3 linked regions of the Homo sapiens genome follow. The protein of the gene in region 1 interacts with the protein of each later gene in a pairwise test. Each region holds a gene or a part of one and is shown in the gene's direction. Other genes may lie near its edges.

Region 1 (3,653 bases):
CTTGCTTCCTTGTTTAAATTTTGTGGACTATTTCACTTAATATTTGGAAATGAGATGGTTTCTAAATATCAGCTGAGAGTAATAAACATTCTTCATTCCCTCAATTTTTAACCTGTGGATATTAAATGGTCACCATTCCATATATACTGAAGAACCCTCAAAGTCTAACAGACCTCATTTTACTTACTTTTTTTTTTTTTTTTTTTTCTTGGTAGAGACTAGGTCTCGCTATGTTGCCCAAGCTGGTCTTGAACTACTGGGCTCAAGTGATGCTACCACCTGGGCCTCCCAAAGTGCTGGGATTACAGTTGTGAGCCATTGCACCAGGCCTCTTTTTACTCTCAAGATTCATCCTTTATTACAGGTTCTTCTAGAGCTAATTCTTGTGCTTTTCTTCTCCAGTTAATTGGCCTTGGTCCTCACAGCTCCAAAAAGAAACAGGATCTCGATAAGCTCTATGAGCTGAAGTCCAAAGCTCGGCAGATTATGAACCAGTTTGGCCCCTCAGCCCTAATCAACCTCTCCAATTTCTCATCCATAAAACCGGAACCAGCCAGCACCCCTCCACAAGGCTCCATGGCCAATAGTACTGCAGTGGTAAAGATACCAGGCACTCCTGGGGCAGGAGGTCGTCTTAGCCCTGAAAACAATCAGGTATCATCCTCTTACTCTTTCTTCTCTGTAGCCACTTCTTACCTATTATTTCAATCTGTAATACTTTAAGAGATGTCCATCTCAGATGCTGCTTTTTTCTCTTAGCCGAAAAGGTCTTTTCCCTCTTTTGGATTTCTAACTTTTTTTGTTTGTTTTAATATAAGTAGAGAGTTTATTTGGGCCAAATTTGAGGACTCCCAATTCAGGAGACACAGATTCAAGTTGTCCTGAATGTATACTCCTCTGGGAACATTCTTTAGCAAATTATCATGTACAATGTTTATTAATTACTGTATTGTATGTGGTTGTGTGTATGCATATATACATCCATCCATCCATCTGTACACACTAACACAATACCTTGCCTATGAAAGGTGTTTTTTTCCTTTCATTTTGATAAGTGCTTTATATACATGTTAACCATGTAGTTGTTAAATAAAATAATAAATTGATTCATTATTCCTATGATAAAAGTACTCTTGCTTCTAGTCATTCCATCTTCTAGTTCATCCAATTGCTGCCATTATTAATTTTCTGCAGTGATTCTAAAATCTGCTCCATTCTTTCTACCCATAATTCTGATTCTGCCCTCCAGAGCCACAAGAAATAAGTATAATCCCTTTGACTTGTTTTTTGTAGGCTGTGTAGAATGGATGAGTTCGCCCAGTATTTCAAGGGAATGAGTGGAGGGACTTGCAAAGATTAATGAGAGCGGGTTGGGCAGTCAGGATATCAACCTATGTTGAATATGGAGTCTGTTGTAGAAGACAGAATTTAAAATTGTATAGGTAGGGCAGAACATAGTGGACCTGTACTAGTCAATTTCCATTGGAACTTTTAGGCAATATACAATCTTTGCAGATATTTAATAAAGGAGTAAAAGTAACATAATAAAAATAGTGTGTCCTATAGAGGATTAACTTGGCAGTAAGGGGACAGGATGGGTAGAAAAGGGGGTTAGACTGGGTGGATGACCAATTCTAAGATTTTTGCAATAAATCAAGACATGTAGTGAAGGCTCGAATTAGGTGATAATGATAGAATGAAGAAGAATGGATAGATATGAGACATCATTAACAAATATTTATTCATTTTTTTTAGAGAAAGGGTTTTGCTCTGTTGCCTGGGCTAGAGTGCAATGGTATAATCATAGCTCACTGTAGCCTCAAATTTCTGGGTTCGGCCGGGCATGGTGGCTCAAGCCTGTAATCCCAGCACTTTGGGAGGCCGAGGTGGGCGGATCACGAGGTCAGATCAAGACCATCCTGGCTAACACGGTGAAACCCCGTCTCTACTAAAAATACAAAAACATTAGCCAGGCGTGGTGGCAGGCGCCTGTAGTCCCAGCTACTCGGGAGGCTGAGGCAGGAGAATGGCGTGAACCCAGGAGGTGGAGCTTGCAGTGAGCAGAGATTGCGCCACTGCACTCCAGCCTGGGCGACAGAGCGAGACTCTGTTGCAAAAAAAAAAATTATTTTCTTGGGTGTGCGCGGTAGCTCACGCCTGTAATCCCAGCACTTTGGGAGGCCAAGGCAGGCGATAACCCAAGGTCAAGAGTTCGAGACCAGCCTGGCCAATATGCTGAAACCCCATCTCTACTAAAATTACAAAAATCAACCTGGCATGGTGGTGCACACCTGTAGTCCCAGCTACTCAGGAGGCTGAGGCAAAAGAATCACCTGAACCCGGGAGGCAGAGGTTGCAGTGAGCCGAGATTACACCACTGCACTCCAGCCTGGGTGATAGAACGAGATTCCGTCTCAAAAAAAAAAAAAATTTTTTTTCTTTTTTCCTTATTTCAAAAGTTATATGTGTTCATCACAGAAACTTCAGAAATACACAAAGAATAAATAGCCTATAATTCTAATGCCACCACCCTAAAATAGCCATGGTTAGCATTTTAGTGTATGTCTTTTGGTGTTTTTCTTTTTTTCCTCTGTCTGTCTCTCTCTCTTTTTTTTTTTTGAGACAGAGTCTCGCTCTATCACCCAGGATGGAGTGCAATGGCATAATCTTGGCTCACTGCAACCTCCTCCTCCCAATTCAAGCTATTCTCCTGCCTCAGCCTCCCTAATAGTTGGAATTATAGGCACCCACACCATGCCCAGCTAATTTTTGTATTTTCAGTAGAGACAGGGTTTCGCCATGTTGGTCAGGCTGGTCTCAAACTCCTGACTTCAGGTTATCCACCCGCCTCAGCCTCCCAAAGTGCTAGGATTACAGGCATGAGCCACCGTACCCGGCTTTTTTTTTTTTTTTTTTTTTTCAGTGGAATTTTACTAGAAGGTTTAGAGCAGGAAAGAAAGGAAAGTACACTTGGAAGAGACTCAAATGGGCACTGAGGAGGTCAAGTGCCTAACTTTTTCTTTTTTCTTAATTTATTTTTTATATATTTTTTAGATTTTTTTTTTTTTTTGAGATGGAGTCTCACTCTGTTGCCCAGGCTGGAGTGCAGTGGCGCAATCTCGTCTCACTGCAAGCTCTGCCTCCCGGGTTCACGCCATTCTCCTGCCTCAGCCTCCCAAGTAGCTGGGACTACAGGCGCCCGCCACCACGCCTGGCTAATTTTTTTTTTTGCATTTTTAGTAGAGACAGGGTTTCACCGTGTTAGCCAGGATGGTCTCAGTCTTCTCACCTCGTGATCCGCTCACCTCGGTCTCCCAAAGTACTGGGATTACAGGCATGAGCCACTGCACCCAGCCATTTTGTAGATGTTTTTTTTAAATAGAGATGCAGTCTCGCCATGTTGCCCAGGCTGGTCTTTGAACTCCTGGGCTCAGGTAGTCCTCCCACCTCGGCCTTCCAAAGTGGTGGGATTACAGGCGTGAGCCACTGTGCCAGGCCCTTTTTTTTGTTTGTTTCTTAAGACATGAGGTCTTCCTGTGTTCCCCAGGCTGGAGTGTAGTGGCACAATCATAGCTCACTGCAGTCTCTAACTCCTGGCCTCAAGTGATCCTCCTGCCTCAGCCTGCTGAGTAGCTGGGACTACAGGCACAGAT
Region 2 (3,653 bases), on another chromosome or scaffold:
GTGACCCCAAATCTGCTCCTCTCCATCACCTTGGTTTTAGAAATTTCCCGTTGCTGTGGTTGTAAGGATACATGATTCTGGCACACGGCCTCTTAGCACAGTTTTGATGGACAGTAGCAGCTTCTGGCTAGTCTCCCTGTTTCAGTTCTCTGTCCTCTCCAATCTAGTCTCTTTGTAATAGCCAGTGAGCTGCGGACAAGATCTGATCATTTTATTTCTTTGTGTAAAATTCTTCAGTTGTTTATTGCAGAATTTCAGGTAAATCCCCACTCCTTAGGCAGCCCACAAGGCCCTTTGTGATGTTATTTCTGCCTTCTTTCTTTCTGGCCTTGGCATTGCTGGGTGTCCCCACCCTTTGTTACCTGTGGTCTCGCTATGCCACCTGGATTAAACTACTTACTGTTCCTTGAGGGAGCCACGTTCTTTCCTGCCTTGAAACTTTCTACATTATGTACCCTCTGTCTGAATGGAGTTTCTCCTCCTCGCCCCTGTCTGCCCTCCTGCCTAGTTATCTGCCACAAGTCCAAGAGTTAGCATGGATGTCATATCTTCCAGTCCCAGTCGGATGACCCTGTTAAGGCATTGCCCTCAGCCTGCTATGTCTCTTTCCTCAGCTGTGTGAAATTCATCATTCTATCTCCAGCGCAGAACACAGGTGTGGGATGTGGTGAAGGCTTGAATGGGCGGCTAGCTGCTGGATAGTGTGGTGATCAAGAACACGGACTTTAGAGCCAGTGGGTCTGGGATCAAATCTTGGCTTTGCTAATTTCTTGCCGTGTGACCTTGGGCAAGTTACTTAATCTTTTGGTATCATTGTGGTCTCATTGATAAAATGGGGACGGTAATAGTACCTAGCCCTTGAGGTTACCGTGAGAAATTGAGAATTAGATTACACAAAGCACTTAGAAAAGTGCCTGGCTGGAAATAAGCTTAGTACACATGTGAGTTCCTATTGTTACATCTGTGCTGCTCGCATAACTTGCACTGATTTTGCACAGAAACAGTTATCCCTGCCATTACTTATTTTATTTATTTTTAGGGAAAATCCCTCTAGGTACGTAATTACCTCCAATCTCTAGGGATAAGAATGTTGTGAAAAGTAAAAACAACTTGCTTCCTCAAATACTGCTTGGGAGGAGTTTGTGTGGGCAGAAGCATGTGGCCTAGCACCAGCAGCGGCCCAGCACGAGCAGCTTACCCACAATGCTTTATTCTGATGATTGATCTGGTGCTCAGTTGCTAACTTTTTTTTTTCTTAAGGAAACAGATAGATCTCCAAATGATGAGATTGGTTAACTTTTTTATTTTTTTTTTAATTGAGACAGGTTCTTGCTCTGTCACCCAGACAGGAGTGCAGTGGTGCTATCTCAGCTCACTGCAACCTCCACAGACTGGGTTCAAGTGATTCTTGTGTCTCAGCCTCCTGAGTCGCTGAGACTACAGGCATGCGCCACCACGTCTGGCTAATTGTTTTGTGTTTTTGGTAGAATGGGGTTTCGCCATGTTGGCCAGCCTGGTCTCAAACTCCTGACCTCAGGTGATCCACCCACCGTGGCCTCCCAAAGTGCTGGGATTACAGGCTTGAGCCACCACACCTGGCTGAGATTTGTTAACTTCTGAGGGGTCACTTATCATGAGCCTCACAGTATTGATATTGTGTCTCAGTTTCTTCTTATCCTACCAATTATGCTCTTTGAAAACAAAATGAAACAAAAACAAAAAAGACAGACATCAAAGCAAAAAACAAAACTAAACAAACAAACAAAAAAACACCCTTTAGACTCATATTTTCTGAGTTTGAAATACTTGATGTAAAATCTGGAAATTAGTTCAGAATAGGATTTCTTTGCCAGAATTAGCCTTTTCTAGGCTCCTTTTTTGGGCTCAGTTTTGTCTGGGTTCTATTCTACAGTGGACACCTGAGCTGGGTTTTGTGAACATGCCTAGATGCGTCTTCATGGTGGGTTTTGTATGGCATAGCTGGAGTGTGGAATTCACAGCTGGGTTTAAAGGAAAGTACTGCAATATTCTCTCAAACATTCTCCTAGCCTTCATATGACAGCTGAGCAAACACATTTTAAAATCAGTTAGCCCATATTTTATTTGGGAACTCCTAGCTTTCACATTTCTTCCAATTTTTTTTTTGAGACAGGGTCTCACTATGTTGCCCAGGCTGATCTCCAGCTCCTAGGCTCAAGCAGTCTCCCTGTGTCAGCCTGCTGAGTAGCTGGGACCACAGGCACACACCATTACACCCAGCTAGTTTTTTCAAAAAAATTTTTGTAGAGACAGAGGTCTCACTTTTTTGCTCCAGAGGGTCTCGAACTCCTGGGCTCAAGTGACCCTCCCACTCTGGCGTTTCAAAGTGCTGGGATTATAGGCACAAGCCACCATGCCTGGCCTCTCTTCCTATTTTGTTAAAAATAAATATATTGGTTACAAATATACCAGAAAGTCATGGCTAACTATGTAGTAACATGTAATAATAATTGTCCCACATTTGCTTCTAATTAGCCATCTAATATATTCTCCATCTTTATGAGAATTGTCATGTTATTAATTTGTCAGTTTGTTTTATTTTACAAGCATGCAAGGATGCATTCTTGTACAGAAGCCAGGAACATATAGAACCAGCCAAGAAAGGTCTTAAATTATTTTGTGGTAAATTAATTGCTGATTATGCTAATTTTTAGTTTTGTTTTCTCAAAGAAGTGTTAATTATTTGTCATCAAATTATAGGGTAACTCTGCAATATATTTAGTAAGAAAGGTTCTTTTTCTTTCCTCATAATAACAAAGGGTAACAACATAATCACATAATCACACAACAACATAATAACAACAGGCAAAACACTAGCAGCAGAGAGTTAAGTAAGAACTTCATTTAAGTAAGGAGTTCAGCGGTAGTGGAGATTTAGTCGCCAAGGAAGTCTTGCTTACGGCTTTGGTTCCCCTAATCTGGCGTGTAAGCTTTGAGTCAGGGTCTTTGGGTGGGACAGTCTGAGCTACGGCTTTCCTGGCAAATTTGACATGACTTAAAAAACTTCAGTGTTGACCAGTGATTAGTCCTGGGCCACCCAGGATTTAGACACCACCTGTTTACTTGTAAACATGCAGTTATTGCTGAGCTAAAAAAACTTGCATTTGTATTCACATTTGGGTTCTCCAAAGAGGTGAAACTGACCCGATGAAACACAGTAAAACTCAAGAAGGACATGGCCTTTGAATAAGCACTGTCACCCAGAAATGAGCCCCCGCCCCTCCAAAAAAAAAAAAAAAAAAGAGCCTTCCAAGCATTGCCATACCACAGGGCTGGGCAAGAATGAGCCAGGACCAGCGTCTGATGGACTCCTGGTAGAACGGTAAGCTGTGGCTCTCTGTGGACATGTCACTGGGAGAGAGCATGTTGGGACTTGTTCTATGGGGCTTGGTCTCCAGGGAGCTTGAAAGGGAGATGTTATTTTCACAACTATGTGTTCTGAAGGAAAGTGAGCAAAGATGCATTTCTGAGACTTTAATTCTCCCCTAAAAACAAATTTTTTGTAATTTTTTTTTATTGTCTTAGAAAACCTGCCTACAAATTACACATATGAAATCAGTACCGGGTTACTTGGGGGTGGAAACAGGTGGAGCATGATGTTTTGCGTAACCTCT
Region 3 (3,653 bases), on another chromosome or scaffold:
TTCTGGCATAGTAAAGAATAAGGATTGGAAAACAAGTCTTAATTTACTATGACACAGCACAAGACCTGCTGGGTCAGTAATTCTGAAATTTTCATAGATATCTCAAGGAAGTTTGATTCAGAAATGACCATTACCCTGTACCATTTTTGGAGAGCTTTTTTAAATAGGTTGAGATGGGACATGATATCCTTTTCTTCCCCCTCAGTAGACATCCCACCCAGGTCATTCTGATATCAATAGTTCCATGACTGTACTTTGGAAAACATTAACAGATAGTGATAATACTATATTCTTCTTAACATTTAAAACATAATTGCCGTTAGTTGACAATTGCTGTGTGCTGTCTAAATGCTTTAATTTTTTTGTCTCAGCTTTATGAGAACGATAAGGCCATCACTTGCCCAGTGTTTCACGTGAGCTGCAAAATCAAGATTGGGATACAGGTGGACCTGGCTTCATCCCTGTGCTCTTGACTGCCCGATTCTATCTCCAGATGGGGCTGGGGCTAGCATAACCTGAGTATCCCTTATATGTCAAGCTCTATTTGGGACCCTTAATGTGTTTTATTGTTAAAGCTCTGAAAAATTAACTTGTCCAAGGTCACACATAAAACGAGTAAGTAGGGAAGCCTGATTTCTTACTCTTATGTATCTAACCTTGAAGCCCAGGATGATCAGGGAGTTCTTAAATGGAATTTGTTCTGTGGGCTGACTCACAAGTCAGGTTTTCCTGTTTTTTTTTCTTTTAGTAATGCTGATGGATTTGCATTGTTGGTTCATATCCTCTCTTGTGAATGTCTTTAACGTAAGTGATGGTATTTATGAGAGGTTGGAGTTAAAAGGCAAGTTTTTGACCATGCAACTTGTGCCCATTGACAAACGTAGGACAAACGTAGGGATCAAGCATGTGACCTTGACCTTATAATGTGGTGGTTTAATCAAATAAGCCAGGCACCTGCAGTTAGCTGGAAAAAATGTTGTCTGGCCAGGGGTCGGTGATTTTTGAGGGTCAGGTGGTGTGGCTGTAGGTGGCGCTAGAGCAAACAGTCAGATGGGTGAAGGTCATCTTCTTTCCTACCTTTCCAAAGGATCCCTTCCTCTTCTAATAGCTTTCTTTTCCCTCTCCTATTCTCTTCCAGTCTTATAAATTCTAATTGTTACTTTCCATTTGCTATCAATTCTGGTCGAAAGAGCAAGCTTTAGATGTTAGAATGATAGTGGCTTATGGTGACCCTTTCTAGGGAAACTCTCAAAGGCCAGAAAGAAGCCATAATGGAAACCTCTTGGCATCTACTCTGTCTCCCTCTTCCCCGTCCTAGAGAAAGCAAATACAGTTTGACATGTCATGTCTGAAAGGGTAGCATCCCTAGGCCTTGAATTTCTTAGAAGGTTTACGGTAGGCTATAGCATTGCATCAGTACTAGTTTGGAGTAAAATCTGTGGTAATTCATGATTTTATATAGGCATCATCAAGAGATCTTGTGTTGCCCCATAATTTCTTCAGTGGAATTGCTGAAACAAAAAATGAAGTAAATACCATTCAGATTACTCTGATAAATGGACAAGTGGTCAGAAACAAAATTAACTACACATGGGCACATGCAGAGCAGTCAACCTGGGAGAAAAAATAACTACCGTGATAGAAAATAAAGAGCTGATTTTCTGAGTTATAGAAGAAAAAGATCTAGAGTTCAAAGTAGATACACATACCAAAAATATAGACTCATACCCCATAAGACAAGCATATCAAAAGTAATAAATAGAAATTTACCATGTAATAACTGTGGCTTAATCCTCTTAACTCTGTCCCATGTCCAGTCTTGTTGGAATCTTACCTACCTTTTGGTTTTTACAGTTCAAAGGGAATTTGGAGAATTTACAAAACATCCTTAAGGTCAAGCAAAATATTGTAAAGTTTATATCATTGATATAAAATCTTACAGAGTTATATACTTTTTTTTTTGCAGAATAGCAATTTCATTGTGTTTTATGGAAATGAATCCAGTATTGCACTTCTTGGCGAGGTGAAGCAGGGAATGAGCTTATGTGGCAGTTTTACTTAGGATTTAATGTTATACAGTAATAAAATCCATATCTTTTCAGCTCATAATTTGTAGCTAAGAGCTCCAGGATTTTGTAATTAATGAGACTTTATAGTTTTTGGCTATTAGAGATTTACATGGTGGTTTTAAATCCTCCTGAAATGGATTAAATCATTCATGACAATGGCTAAAATATTGAAGCCATTATTTTAGTTATGAGCATAAAACAATAGTGTCAGAAAAGATAATAAAAATTATTTTGAGTTAGAGATAGTGATTGTGATTTTCAAAGCAGAAGTTAAGAACATTATTCATTTTACTAGTAATAGTAGGTGGATTGCTTTAGGGGTTGAAATTGGGAAACCAAAAAACCCCTTCTCTTACCATCTATTACTTTGGGCTTTGGAAGAAGGGTGGTAGAGGGAGAAAGATAATGAAGTCAGAAGGGAAAGGGGGAGGGAGAGAGCAAGAGAGAAGTAAAACCAGTTGTGAAGGCTTGCTTGAGTAACTTACACTTTGAAGACATACAATGGAAACACCTAAACAGAAATTGAAGCATTAGTACTTTAATTTTTCTATCAAAAACCAAACCATTTAGCTATTATTTTAGATAAGACAGTTACCAGCTTTTTTTTTTTTTTTTTTTTTTTTTTTTTGTGGATGCACATAAATTGATGTGCTGTGTCTGGGTAGAACAGGAGTGAATATTGAATGGTTATTTTATTGTTGCAAATCTCATTCCATGGATTCCAGTAAATTTCCAGCCGTCAAGATTTTGTTAACAGCTATGTTGAAAAACAATTGTGTTTCTTTTTCAGTTGTGCAAATACAAACAGGGGACCTATGAATCCATCAATTTGGGGTTTATTTTTGACCCATTAAGAAAATCGTTTGTCAGTAGTAGTAGTAATAAAGTCCTACAGTGGAGGTTGGGGAATGATGGAATATTTTAAGGTGAGAGATTCAGTGAAGAAGACTGAAGTGACTAACTGCAGGGTCTACTTTAGAAGTGTGGAGAATCACAGAAAGTGCTGAGATCTGGGATGGCCTATTAGAAACAATGTGTGAAACTTGGAAGGTAGGATAGTTCTTATTTTAAGAAAAAAGAAATGATTCGTCTTACATTTACTCTCTTTAGACTTCATTTTTTTCTGTTTTTGTTTGTTTTTTGGTAGAGATGGGTCTTCCTTTCTTGCCCAGGCTGGTCTTGAACTCCTGGCTTCAAGCAGTCCTTTTGCCTCAGCTTCCGAAAGTGTTGGAATTAGAGGCGTGAGCCACTGCTCCCTGCCTAGACTTAAGACACCATCCTTTTGTCAGAGATGGCCTCATAGATAGTATGTATGATCAATTTTGTTAATAGATGGGGCAGGTGAGAGACAGAGAAGTTCCTTATCCAAATTTGGTAGGTTTTGGCCTTATAAATTTGAGTTTGTTCATACAACTGTTGCCAACATTTTGTGCGCTATTTATATTAACTTACATCATATGAATTTTTTCTGTCTTCCATCAAGTTGATTGATAAGGTTTAAAAGGATGGGCTAAAGAAAAGTACTTTTGTCTTCAGAATTTCCAGGTTTTTTTGTTCTTTGATTCTTTTTCAATGAAGTGAAAT

The links.
Region 2: the proteins of TAF12 (region 1) and CLIC6 interact in a two-hybrid assay, tested with the Homo sapiens proteins (one large-scale study listed by BioGRID and IntAct).
Region 3: the proteins of TAF12 (region 1) and PRKAR2B interact in binary tests that used the Homo sapiens proteins (3 or more experiments, as listed by UniProt).

What each region holds. Positions count from the first base shown.
Region 1 is NC_000001.11:28,618,915-28,622,567, reverse strand, and holds part of TAF12 (transcription initiation factor TFIID subunit 12), read left to right. Parts: intron 1-402; coding exon of another isoform or gene 403-486; coding exon 487-654; intron 655-3,653. UniProt on the Homo sapiens protein: The TFIID basal transcription factor complex plays a major role in the initiation of RNA polymerase II (Pol II)-dependent transcription.
Region 2 is NC_000021.9:34,671,990-34,675,642, forward strand, and holds part of CLIC6 (chloride intracellular channel protein 6), read left to right. Parts: intron 1-3,653. UniProt on the Homo sapiens protein: In the soluble state, catalyzes glutaredoxin-like thiol disulfide exchange reactions with reduced glutathione as electron donor. Can insert into membranes and form voltage-dependent chloride-selective channels.
Region 3 is NC_000007.14:107,047,666-107,051,318, forward strand, and holds part of PRKAR2B (cAMP-dependent protein kinase type II-beta regulatory subunit), read left to right. Parts: intron 1-3,653. UniProt on the Homo sapiens protein: Regulatory subunit of the cAMP-dependent protein kinases involved in cAMP signaling in cells. Type II regulatory chains mediate membrane association by binding to anchoring proteins, including the MAP2 kinase.